Linked DNA regions of Homo sapiens: region 1 is linked to region 2. Evidence: fine-mapped QTL for protein levels in blood plasma. A gene starts in region 2. The other region holds a variant in brackets. All regions are shown on one strand. Distances are between the middles of the regions.

Region 1 (5,377 bases), 64 kb before region 2:
CATGCACTCTACCACCTTGTGAAACCACCTAATTTCTACAAATCAGATTACTAAACAGAACTTACCCCTTCTTTTTTTCCTTTTCTCTCCATCTTCTCCAACCTCACCCTCTTCATCATCATCTTCCTCTGACCCACTGATATCAGAGCCTGATATTTCTTCTCCTTGGACAGAAATTTAATACAATGTTTTTTATCCTGTACGAAGTCATTAGCTATTTAGGAAATACCTATATCAGCTTTCTTCCTCAGATTTTTGTTACTGCAAACAACAAATTTAAATACTATTTAAATGCTCCTAGAAAGTATAACAGATATGCCAATCTCAGACACAGATGAGATATCCAAAAAGACTTTATTTTTAAAGTCTCTAAAGAGAAGTTAAATTCTGACCCACTTAAAATTTCAAACCATTCTGGCTAGGCAAGGTGGCGCACGCCTGTAATCCCAGCACTTTAAGAGGCTGAGGCAGGCAGATCACTTGAGGCCAAGAGTTTGAGACCAGCCTGGCCAACATGGCAAAACCCCATCTCTACTAAAAATACAAAAATTAGCTGGGCTTGGTGGCATGCACCTGTAATCCCAGCTACTTGGGAGGCTGAGGCAGGAGAATCACTTGAACCCAGGAGGCAGAGGTTGCAGTGAGCCGAGATGGCACCACTGTACTCCAGCCTCAACAACAGAGTGACTCTGTCTCAAAAAAAAAAATAAAAATATTCAAATCATTTCTTTATGTATAATTTTAAATATATATATAAATTATGTGGTAGAGTTACTAATTCAGTCTTTTAAAAATGTGATCACTTTTGAGGAACAATTTCTTCTAAAACAGCTTCCTGTTTAAGATTTCAAATAATTCATTCAATCTGTATTTTTAAGAGACACAGAACTGTCATGTAACAATGATCCCACTTTTAGGACTGTATCACAAGATATTTTCAAAAAAAGAAGTGCTTATTTGTACAAAGACAGTGTTAACTACACATTAACTTAAAGATAAAAAACAAAAAAGGAATGATGAAGCCAATAAAACAGATCAGCACTATATCATCTTCAAATTAGCTATTTTTAAATGCCACTGTTTACATATGAAATGTCTAACAAAATAAAATAGAGGAGAAAAAAGTAAAATATACTCTAATCACAACCAGGTAATAATTGTACCTGTAAGTACAAGATGGAAAGGAACACAGAGTCTTGGGAGAAGAAATTTCTGAAAAATATTTTTTTCTTCGGGCTTAGAAACAATGACATCTTGGTAGTAATGAGCACAGCTAGTGCCCAAAACTGGGTTTCTAAATACCATTCTCCTACAGAAGGGACCAGAGAGAAGTGAATGATTCTAAGATTGGGCAAGGAAGACACAAGATAAACCTAAAACCTTTTGTAGTGCCAAAAAGTAATCAAATGCTCAAAAAAACTGATGAGCACATGCTGAAAGAATACAGGAACTACTCTGAAGGATCTCATAATAGCCAAAGCTGGAACAATTCAATGAACAAAATAAATAATGATAACACTGGATTATAATCCATGATCTAAATAAGATAAATACTTGAATAAATAAACAAATGGGAATGAAGGGGCTGTTCTTCCATACAATAGAATCCTAAACACTAAACAAGGAAGAAATGATGAGAATAGAAAATAACATTGAGCAAATGCCACAGGATTATTGTTGCAGACAAGAACTATTGATGAATACTAAAAATAGTAGAAGAAAGTATGACAAGAAACAGGACCTTTGCAGTCTCAAAGTATCCCCCACAAGATACATGTTAATTACGAATGGAAACATAAAACAATAGATTTGCAGTGGAGAAACTTTGCAGGGTCATTATAAAAGAAAAGTAGACAAACCCAAATTAATGAACATTCAACAAATATATGACCAGTACTCTTCAAAAATGTCAAGATCAAGAAAGACTGGGGAATTAGACTGAAGAACAAGTGTGCTAGACATCGTCATTAAAAAGGCATGACATGGCCGGGCATGGTGGCTCACGCCTGTAGTCCCAGCACTTTGAGATGCCGAGGCAGGCAGATCACGAGGTCAGAGGATAAAGACCATCCTGGCAAACATGGTGAAACCCTGTCTCTACTAAAAATACGAAAATTAGCTGGGCGAGGTGGCATGTGCCTGTAGTCCCAGCTACTCAGGAGGTTGAGGCAGGAGAATCGCTTGAACAGGGAGGCAGAGGTTGCAGTAAGCTGAGACTGTGCCACTGAATTCCAGCCTGGCAACAGAGCGAGACTCTGTCTCAAAACAAAAAACAAACAACAACAACAACAACAACAACAAAACAAAGAAAGCATGACAAATAAATGCAGTGTGTGATCCTGGATTGTATCCTGGACCAGGAAAAAGAGGCACTGGAAGGAAAACTGGCCAAATTTGAATAAAGTCCACAGATTAGTTAATAAGACTATATCAATGTAAATCTCCTGGTTTCAATAACTGTTGTATGCTTATAAAAAATGTTAACATGAGGTGAAGCTGGGTGAAG[G/A]GTAGATAGGAACTCTCCATATCATGTTTGCAAGTTGCATATAGCCTACAATAATTTTTAAGTTTAAAAATTATTATTTTAATGCTATTGCCTACTTTTTTATTGTTGATATGATCAACTCCATTAACTAGATTATAAAAAGAAATGTCATAAGAGCAAAAATGAACTGAAATGTATTAACAACAGTATTATCATAGAATCCAGCAATTCCATTGCTGGGTACATACCCCAAAAATGGTAAAACAAGAATTCAAACAGGTATTAGTATACCCACGTTCATAGCAGCATTATTCACAATAGCCAAAAGGTGGAAAGAACCAACTGTCCATTGGTGGATGAATGGATAACAAAATGTAGTATATACACAATGGAATGTTATTCAGAATTAAAAAGAAGTCCTGATACATTCTACAACACGGATGACCCTTGAAGGCATTATACTAAATGAAATAAGCCAGTCACAAAAAGACAAATGCTGTATTTCACTTTCTTTTTTTTTTTTTTTTTTTTTTTTGAGATGGGAGTCTCACTCTGCCACCCAGGCTGGAGTGCAGTGGCATAATCTCGGCTCATTGCCACCTCCACCTTCCAGGTTCAAGTGATCCTCCTGCCTCAGCCTCCCAAGTAGCTGGGATTACAGGCGAGAGCCACCATGCCCAGCTAATTTTTGTATTTTCAGTAAAGATGGGGTTTCACCGTGTTGGCCAGGCTGGTCTCGAACTCCTGACCTCAACTGATCCACCCGCCTCGGCCTCACAAAGTGCTGGGATTACAAGCGTGAGCCACTGCGCCCCACCAATTCCGCTTTCGTAAGATACCCAGAGCAGTCAAATTCATAGACAAAGCAGAATGGTTGTTGGCCAGGAACTAGGGGAAGGGAGGAATGGGTACATACTGTTTTTAATGAGTACAAAGTTTCAATTTTGCAAGAAGAAAACTGAAGACGGATAACTGCAGAACAATGTGAATGTAATGCCACAGAAATGTAGACTTAAATGTGATTAAAATGGTAAACTTTATGTTATGCAAGTTTAACCACAATTTTTTAAAAAGGAATAAAATTCAGGCACTTGCTACAATATGGATGAACCTTCAACGTTCTGTTAAGTGAAATAAGCCAGTCACAAGTAGATACTCCATGATTTTACTTATATGAGGTACCTAGAATAGTCAAATTCATAGAGACCGAAAGTAGAATAGTGGTTACCAGAGACTGGGGGAGAAAAGAATAGGAAGTTACTACTTAAATGGGCACAGCATTTCTGTTTGGGATGATGAAAAATTTCTAGAAATGAATAGTGGTGACAGTTGCACAACAATGCGAATATACTTGATGCCACTAACTGTACACTTAACTAACAATGGTTACAATGATAAATTTTATGTCATGTATATTTTACCACAACAAAAAAATGTAAAACATAAAGTCAGCAAAATAAAAGTATGCACTCACCGTTAACATCGCTAAGAAATTAAAAATCTTTAAAACATACTGGCTATAAATACCACCTAGTGGTCACATTTAAAACACCAAATTTCATTATCTAACAGTTCTCTTACTGCTTTTCCTCAATAACTACTTGTTTACTAAATAAGTACCCTCTCTAAACATTTGTGATGCTGGCGTCTCTGAATTTCACCTCTGATCTAGTCAGTCTTCTCACAGACTACAAAGGTGCTTTGAAACCAAAGCCCTGTTTACGTGGTTCGCGAAGGAGCTCTGTACCAATCAGAAAGGATCTGTTTCTCGCATTAAGGTGCAAGGACTCACTCAGCACTTAATGACTGGGAAGCGTCTCACTCTCATAAATAAGATCTTCAAATTTTCCAACTTTCTAGCATGATATTGTTAGAAAAGAATTTCCAAAATACAATCTCATGTTCAAATTTAGGTATGAAAGGATATTTTAAAGGTCATGCAATGCATTTTTCCTTATAGCAAACTTGGTTTACTCATGACTGTCTAATATCTTGCTTTACTTCAAACAATAGTTAGTTGATATTGATTGCAATGCCAGAATTCTGGTCATTTTCACCTAAATACATACATTGCAGAATTTGCTCTTATACAGAGACAAATAAACATTCATTCCTTAAAAAGTGGTCATATGAAATCTACAAAACATCATGCAAATGTTTTTAAAAAACCACATACACAAATATTATGTAATTTTACTTAAGCTTAATATGAAAATGCGAAAGTATGTAAGTACCAAGTCACTTTCTAGAAATATTCATTTAACTACCAATGTTAGAGGCTCAAAAAAGGTTTAATAGAGGGCTTTTGTTAGAACAGTTAGTGGTTCAACAATGTATTTTTAGCCAACATAAAGATTAATATTTTGAGGAAAAGCTACCTTCTTCAAGCTTCTTTTTCAGTTCTTCTATTTCTTTCTGGAACTGACGCAGCAAAGCATCCTTTGGATCTTCATTAATTCTAGCTTTATTTTTAATATTCTTAGCACGATTGGCATACCGTAATGTACTGATAGTTTCATCATAATTGTAATCTGCTGGCCCAATATTTGCACACTATTGAATTAGAAATATGAAACAAATCATTTTACACTTGACAGAGTTAAAATTAATACTACCATTACAAATACATCAAAAACATTTAAAGCACATATGCACCCTTGGCCTTCTCGAAAATGAGAGTGTCAACCACATGAGTTTCCAAAGGACACTATTATGGGCTAATACACGAGTGTACCACAAAAAGGACAACCACAAGTCAAAAAAAGTAAAATAATCAAGTTTAAAAAATGTGATACGTATCAATTATTGGCATAAATTACAATCTTAAATTTGCCTGATGTTAACTATATCACCAATTAAGTCTTACCATCATGGTTTTTGAATTTCCTCCTA
Region 2 (5,377 bases):
TTAAATTCAGGCCAAACTCCACCCAAGGTCTCCACCCAAATCCAACCCTATCCAAGCCCTTCCAGGAGGCTGACAGCCCAAAGTGCAGAGGGTGTGGAAGGTGTCCATCCCTCCAGCTGAAGCTGGCATAGCAACCAAGGCCCTGCGCTCAGGCTCTACGCCCTTGCCTGAGTCAGTCCCCTCTCTGTGCCCTGGCCACCCCGCAGCTAATACCAAAACTCCTCACAGGAATGGTCCGAGAGCAAACACAGGACCCCAGGGGAAGGCTTGACCAGCCCACAGCATGGCCTCTCAGCTAACCCTCTGAGGACCATCTCTGGACGAGCAGGGATGGAAGCTCTACAGAGAGTGCCATGAACAGGGCAAATGCATCCTCTGCTCCCTTCTTACATAGGGGGCCAGTCCTCACATCCACGTGGACAATAGGTAGCATATATTATTTATTGTGTCCTTACCATGTGCCAGACACAGGGCTAAGTACCTCCCCTGGATTCTCTTGTTGAATCCTCACAATACCCCTATGAGGGAAGAAATATTTCTATCCCATTATACGCATGAGAGCACCAAGGGGTTAAATAACCTGCCCAAGGTCACATGGCCAACAAGGAGTGTCTAGGATTCCTATCAGGCTGTCTGATTCTGGTTTCTCTACATACCTCTCCCACCTGCAACATCAACTGTTAAACCTCTGGCCACAGACAAGACCCAGACATAACTTTCTGGTCAGCTGGGCACAGAAAATGCACACAGACACACATGCAGAGACACCCAGGCACTCACGGGTCTCTTGGCCTCCAGCTAATCAGCAGGTCTGTTAGGATTCAGGCACTGCCCTCCTCCGGTACATAAATTCCAATTTATAATACGGGGCGAAGTGAATCTCTGAGTAGCCCAGCCTCTGAATCTGTTCCTCATGTATTTAAACTTACTTAACTGACATACGACCCCCTCTCCAATGGGAATAAAACACCCGAGTCTAGAAATTATGAAACCAAGAGCTCCTGCTTTAGTCATGCACATTTCCAAAGTAGAATAAGAAATGTATTTTCAGATTAAATGGAAAATTTACATATATAAATTGGGATGACGGTATTTATAGCATTAATTACATAAGTCCTGGCTCCCTTATTTAGCCCCAGAACCAATTCGTTATCGTTCACATATTCAGAATTCCCCCTTCCCTCCAACAGCCCTGGGCCTCCCTCCTCCTCCTCCTCCTTCTCCCCCTCCTCCCCCTTCCAGCCGACCAGGGCCTTACATGCTGGCAAGAGGACACAGCTTCCTTCACTGTCACAGCCTAGCCTCCCAGACACACCCAGATCCAGCCTTAGACAGCAGGGGATGTCCAGATACAACCCCCCAAAGGCCTCCCTCCCGCGAGTGAATTATGAAAGCCTTTAGTAAGTTGGCTGTCGGCAGGCTCAGGCCCAGTGAGACCCCTGCAGGGACCACCAGGGACATCAACCTTCTGAGGACCTGGACTGGAGCCCAAATAAACGCCCACTGGGCTGAGTCTGGAATCCCTCCAGCTCCTGGCGAATGGCTGCCGCAGACCCGACCACTGAGGCCTGACCTGCCTGGAGTCGCACCCAGGATTCCGGCGTGGGGAGCGGGGCAGAGGGGAGCGGGGGAGGAAGGAAAAGCAGGCCAAGGGTCTTCAGGACTCAAGTCTGCAACTGTCCTGGGCTCGTGTGGGAGACTCTCTCGGATCCTGGGGCCTCCATCCTCCCCGGCTGTACCTATCCCGCAGCACCTGTGCGGCTAGGACTCTTCCCCAAGTGTGCAGAAAGAAACACCCTGGGCGATAGGGTCCGGAGTGTCCCGGACCCTCACCTGCGGCCCCGCGGGCGCCACTCTATCTTCGCACCTGCCCGGAGCCAGGCGGGTCTTTGCTCCTTCCCGCGAAAGGGGTTAGCCTTGCCTGCGCCCCAGGAAGCGACCCCGACCAGCCGCCCGGCAAGGCAGGCCGCCCGACGCTCCGGGACCCCCCGATAGCGCGGCCGAGAGCCCGCGCCGGGGTCCTCGAGCTGGCCCGGTGTCGAGGCCCGGCCGTGAGGCGCTGACAGCCCGCTTCGCGCCCCCCGCCAGCTGCAGGGCGGCCCCTCCTGCGCCCCGCGCCTCCCGCGCGCGCCGTGGCCCAGCGGGGCCCTCACCGAGAAGCGCTCCAGGTCGGTGGCCGCCATGGCGAGCTCCGCACCGGGCGGGTGGGCTGGGACGAGCGCAGGGGCAGCGACAGGGACCAGCCGGCTGCGGGACGCGCTCCGCCCGGGCGGCTGCGGCTGAATGGATCCAATATGGCCACTTCCTGGAAACTCCCCTTGGCGGCGGCGGCGGGAGAAGCCGCGGAGCCGCCCCTGCCCCCGCCCGCGGGACCGGCCTCCCCGCCCGGCCCGGCCACGAGCGCAGCCGGAGCCCCGCCGCTTGGACGGCCGGGGGTCTCCGCGGCGAGGCGGGAGGTGCCAGCTGCGGGGACTGCTGGGACTTGTAGTCCGCGCGTTGGGGGACCGGGACGGCAGTGTCGGGGGGCTCGGGGCTGGTGCCCGGCGGGCCTCTGCGTGTCCCCTGGAGCCTGGGGCCGAGCCTAGGTGAGAGTCTCCTGGGTCCGCGCGCTGGAAAGCCTTTCCCGTAAGGGGGAAGTGGGGCACGGCGTGCGCCCTAGAGATCTCCCCCACCAAGCCGTCTCCACCCGCTGGAGCCTGCAAATGTGCTGGGACCACCAACCAGAGTGTGGACAAGCTGCGGGAGACCCGTCGGATCCGGGAGAGGCCGCGGCAGCCTAGTCTGCGGGTGTCTTGGGCCCCACCTGATGCTCCGGCCGGAGCTAAGGCGGGAACCCCGGCGGGACCCGCGCGTCCGGCCAGGCGGCCTTCCCGGGCAAGGGACCAGCCTTCGGCTCCTTGTGCAACCAACGAGCAGGATGCGCAGTTTAGGCTGGGATTCCTGCAATAGAAAAGCGGAGCTCGACGGTCAAGGCGTCAGATTGCAAGTGTCCATCACCCTGCCTGTCCCAAGGGCTTGGGACAACGTCTTAATGGTTCCACCATTGTGCAAAGAGGATGACCACTCCCAGTGCGTGCACGTTCTCTCCGCTAATGTCACTGCTCAAAACGTTCAGAAAATTAACACTTACGCCAGGGTCGGAGGCCTCAGGAGGTTCTGTATCCTTCTCACTGACAATCTATACAAAAGCAGCTCCCAAATCCTCTGAAACCCCGTTTCTTTCTCTTCCCTCTGCCTTTCTCTCTGCTCTTTCTGGGAATGTGGCAAGGTTTGCCCCCTACCCCCCACTGGCCTCATCCCAGGTTGGTCCACCCTCCACACACACCCCTCACCCCAGTATGCTGAGAAGCAACCTGACCTGTTTCTCCTACTCAGAAACTTGTGCTGACTGGAGGTGCCTAAAGACCACGTTCGACTTAGCACACCTGGCTTAAGAGGAGCCCCCTCTCTGCTGTTTGACCTTGTCACCCTGATTTGGCTTTCCCCTCCTCACTCTCCCAGGCAAACTGTAGCTTGTCCCCAAGGTGGACTGACTTCCCGCTGGACCTTCCTGACAATGTTTTCACTTTGCTCCTCTCTCTATGTTGCTGTTTCCCATGCTGTATTAAAGTTATCTACAAGAAATAGAGCAGAGCAGTGGTTAGGGTAGCTGGATCTATGGCAAACCTTCCTGGTGGAATCCTGCTAGCTTTTTAACCTTAGCTAGGCAAGTTACTTAACTATGCCTCCCTTCCCTGGTCCTAAAAATGAGAACAAGTATAGCACCTATGTTACAGGATTAAATAACATAAGTAAAGGGCTTTAAGTTGTACTTAAAATATAATATTAAATAAAATCTCCCTCTCTAGACTACAAGGGCCTTAATCTCAGAGCCCAGAGAATGTGTGGTCAATACTGAATTGATCATCCTAGACTGTATCTACTGTTTCCTTTTTCTTTCCCTATAACTAACAAGAAATCACGACCAACTGCCATCCGTATGGCAGTTCTGCATTACAACTCTCTGGGACTAGCCCTAAATTATCTTCAAAATGGTCTTTTATCTCTAATCGGAAATATTTCAAAACATGTACTTCTTACAGTCCTGGCCAGTGGCTATGAGAAGGAAAAGCTCAGAGTACAGGTGACTTCCTTCTTTTGGGATATATTCACTCTGCTCTGTAGGAGTAAACAGGAGAATTTCCTCCTATTCCACAATGCCGAAATTTCTCTCATTTTATGCTGCTGCTGGTCAGAACTTATAAAAGAGTGAGAATTATCTATGAGGGCTCAAAAGGTGAATATAACGATCATTTCTCACATGGCAAAGTGTTATTTCTTATGGCAGCATTTCTGAGTGTTTCGTATACACCTAGAGGTTAGTTCATAGATTTTACCACAAAAAGATTGGTCTCACCGTCAAATAACTGGGGAATGCTGAGTTCCATACACAGACAGGGTTCTGTAGAAGTCCTCAGCTTTTGATCAGCTAATATGCATTTTCTGTGCAAAAGAAAGGGGAATATACAGCTCTACCCACACTTTGTTGCCCCTTGTCTCTACCCTGCATACATACCCAGCACCACACTGAACTTGAACATGACAAGACTTCGCTTCAGGAAATGCTGCCCTCCAGGCCTCTTGCTTGTCTTTTACTTTTGTTTATACTTTCTTTTGTCATGTAGAAGTTTAAATTTTTGATGTTGTCAAGTGTACTTGTTATTTTATTTATTATTTTTACTTTGGCTTCTAAAAATAAAGACCCTTCCCTAACTTCACAAAGATATTGTGTTTGTGAGAAAAGAATAAATTTTCTTTAAAAACTTTTTTTTAACTCCTTCACATCTAGGCAATTTGTGTATGTGTATGCCAAACCAGTTGTTTCATCTTTCCCCTCTGATGTACAATGCAAATGGTATCACAGACGACATTTCTGTATGTGTGTGCAGGTTGTGCATCAGTTAGGATTATGTTCAGCTGCTTCAACAAGATAGAAATGTCTTCCTTTCTTACATTGTCCAGGTAGGTAGTCCAGGGCTTATGTGACTCTCTACGCACACTTTCTTCTTGTTGCTTGGCCTTACGTGGTCTTGCTCTCATGGTCCAATATGGTGATATCTGCATTCCAGGCAGCAAGAGGCAATGATAGTAATACAGTGCAAATGAGCCAACTCTCAGAGGATTCCAGAAGCTGCCATGTGGCACTTCTGCTTACATGCTATTGGCCAGAGCTGGAAAATGGGGTCTTTATTCTGGCTATCATGTGCACAGCTAAAAAGTCCATAAAATGTTAGAGGAGAGCAGATGTTGGGAGGCTGCAGCCATCTCTGCCAAGTCTGTTTCTGGACTATCCGTTCCAGTGAGATGCCTGAAAATCTTTTTTTCTAATACTATGAAA

Alleles and levels. Alleles are on the strand shown, and positions count from the first base shown. The strength of an association depends on the size of the effect and on how common the allele is.
For the plasma level of the protein whose gene starts at base 2,285 in region 2, G is the high allele of the variant in region 1 and A is the other (weak association).

What was found. A credible set is the group of variants that fine-mapping cannot tell apart. PIP is the posterior inclusion probability: the model's chance that the variant is causal. The UK Biobank Pharma Proteomics Project read protein levels with antibody pairs (Olink). The fine-mapping took linkage between variants from a reference panel, not from the people measured, so its PIPs are less certain.
Region 1: its variant is the best candidate, but not a certain one, in a credible set for the plasma level of the SEPTIN8 protein (UK Biobank, PIP 0.60).

The regions. Positions count from the first base shown.
Region 1 is chr5:132,710,894-132,716,270 of GRCh38, forward strand. It overlaps KIF3A (kinesin family member 3A), which reads right to left. Exons shown (of 19, transcript NM_001300791.2): 7 at 5,352-5,377; 8 at 4,864-5,038; 9 at 66-164. Among named protein-coding and RNA genes, the nearest start is that of KIF3A, 24 kb to the right of the region's middle. The variant G/A (reference allele first, on the strand shown) is at 2,507.
Region 2 is chr5:132,774,955-132,780,331 of GRCh38, forward strand. SEPTIN8 (septin 8) reads right to left here and starts at 2,285. Exons shown (of 10, transcript NM_001098811.2): 1 at 2,154-2,285. The coding sequence starts at 2,183. RefSeq lists silencers at 2,056-2,465, 2,556-2,605.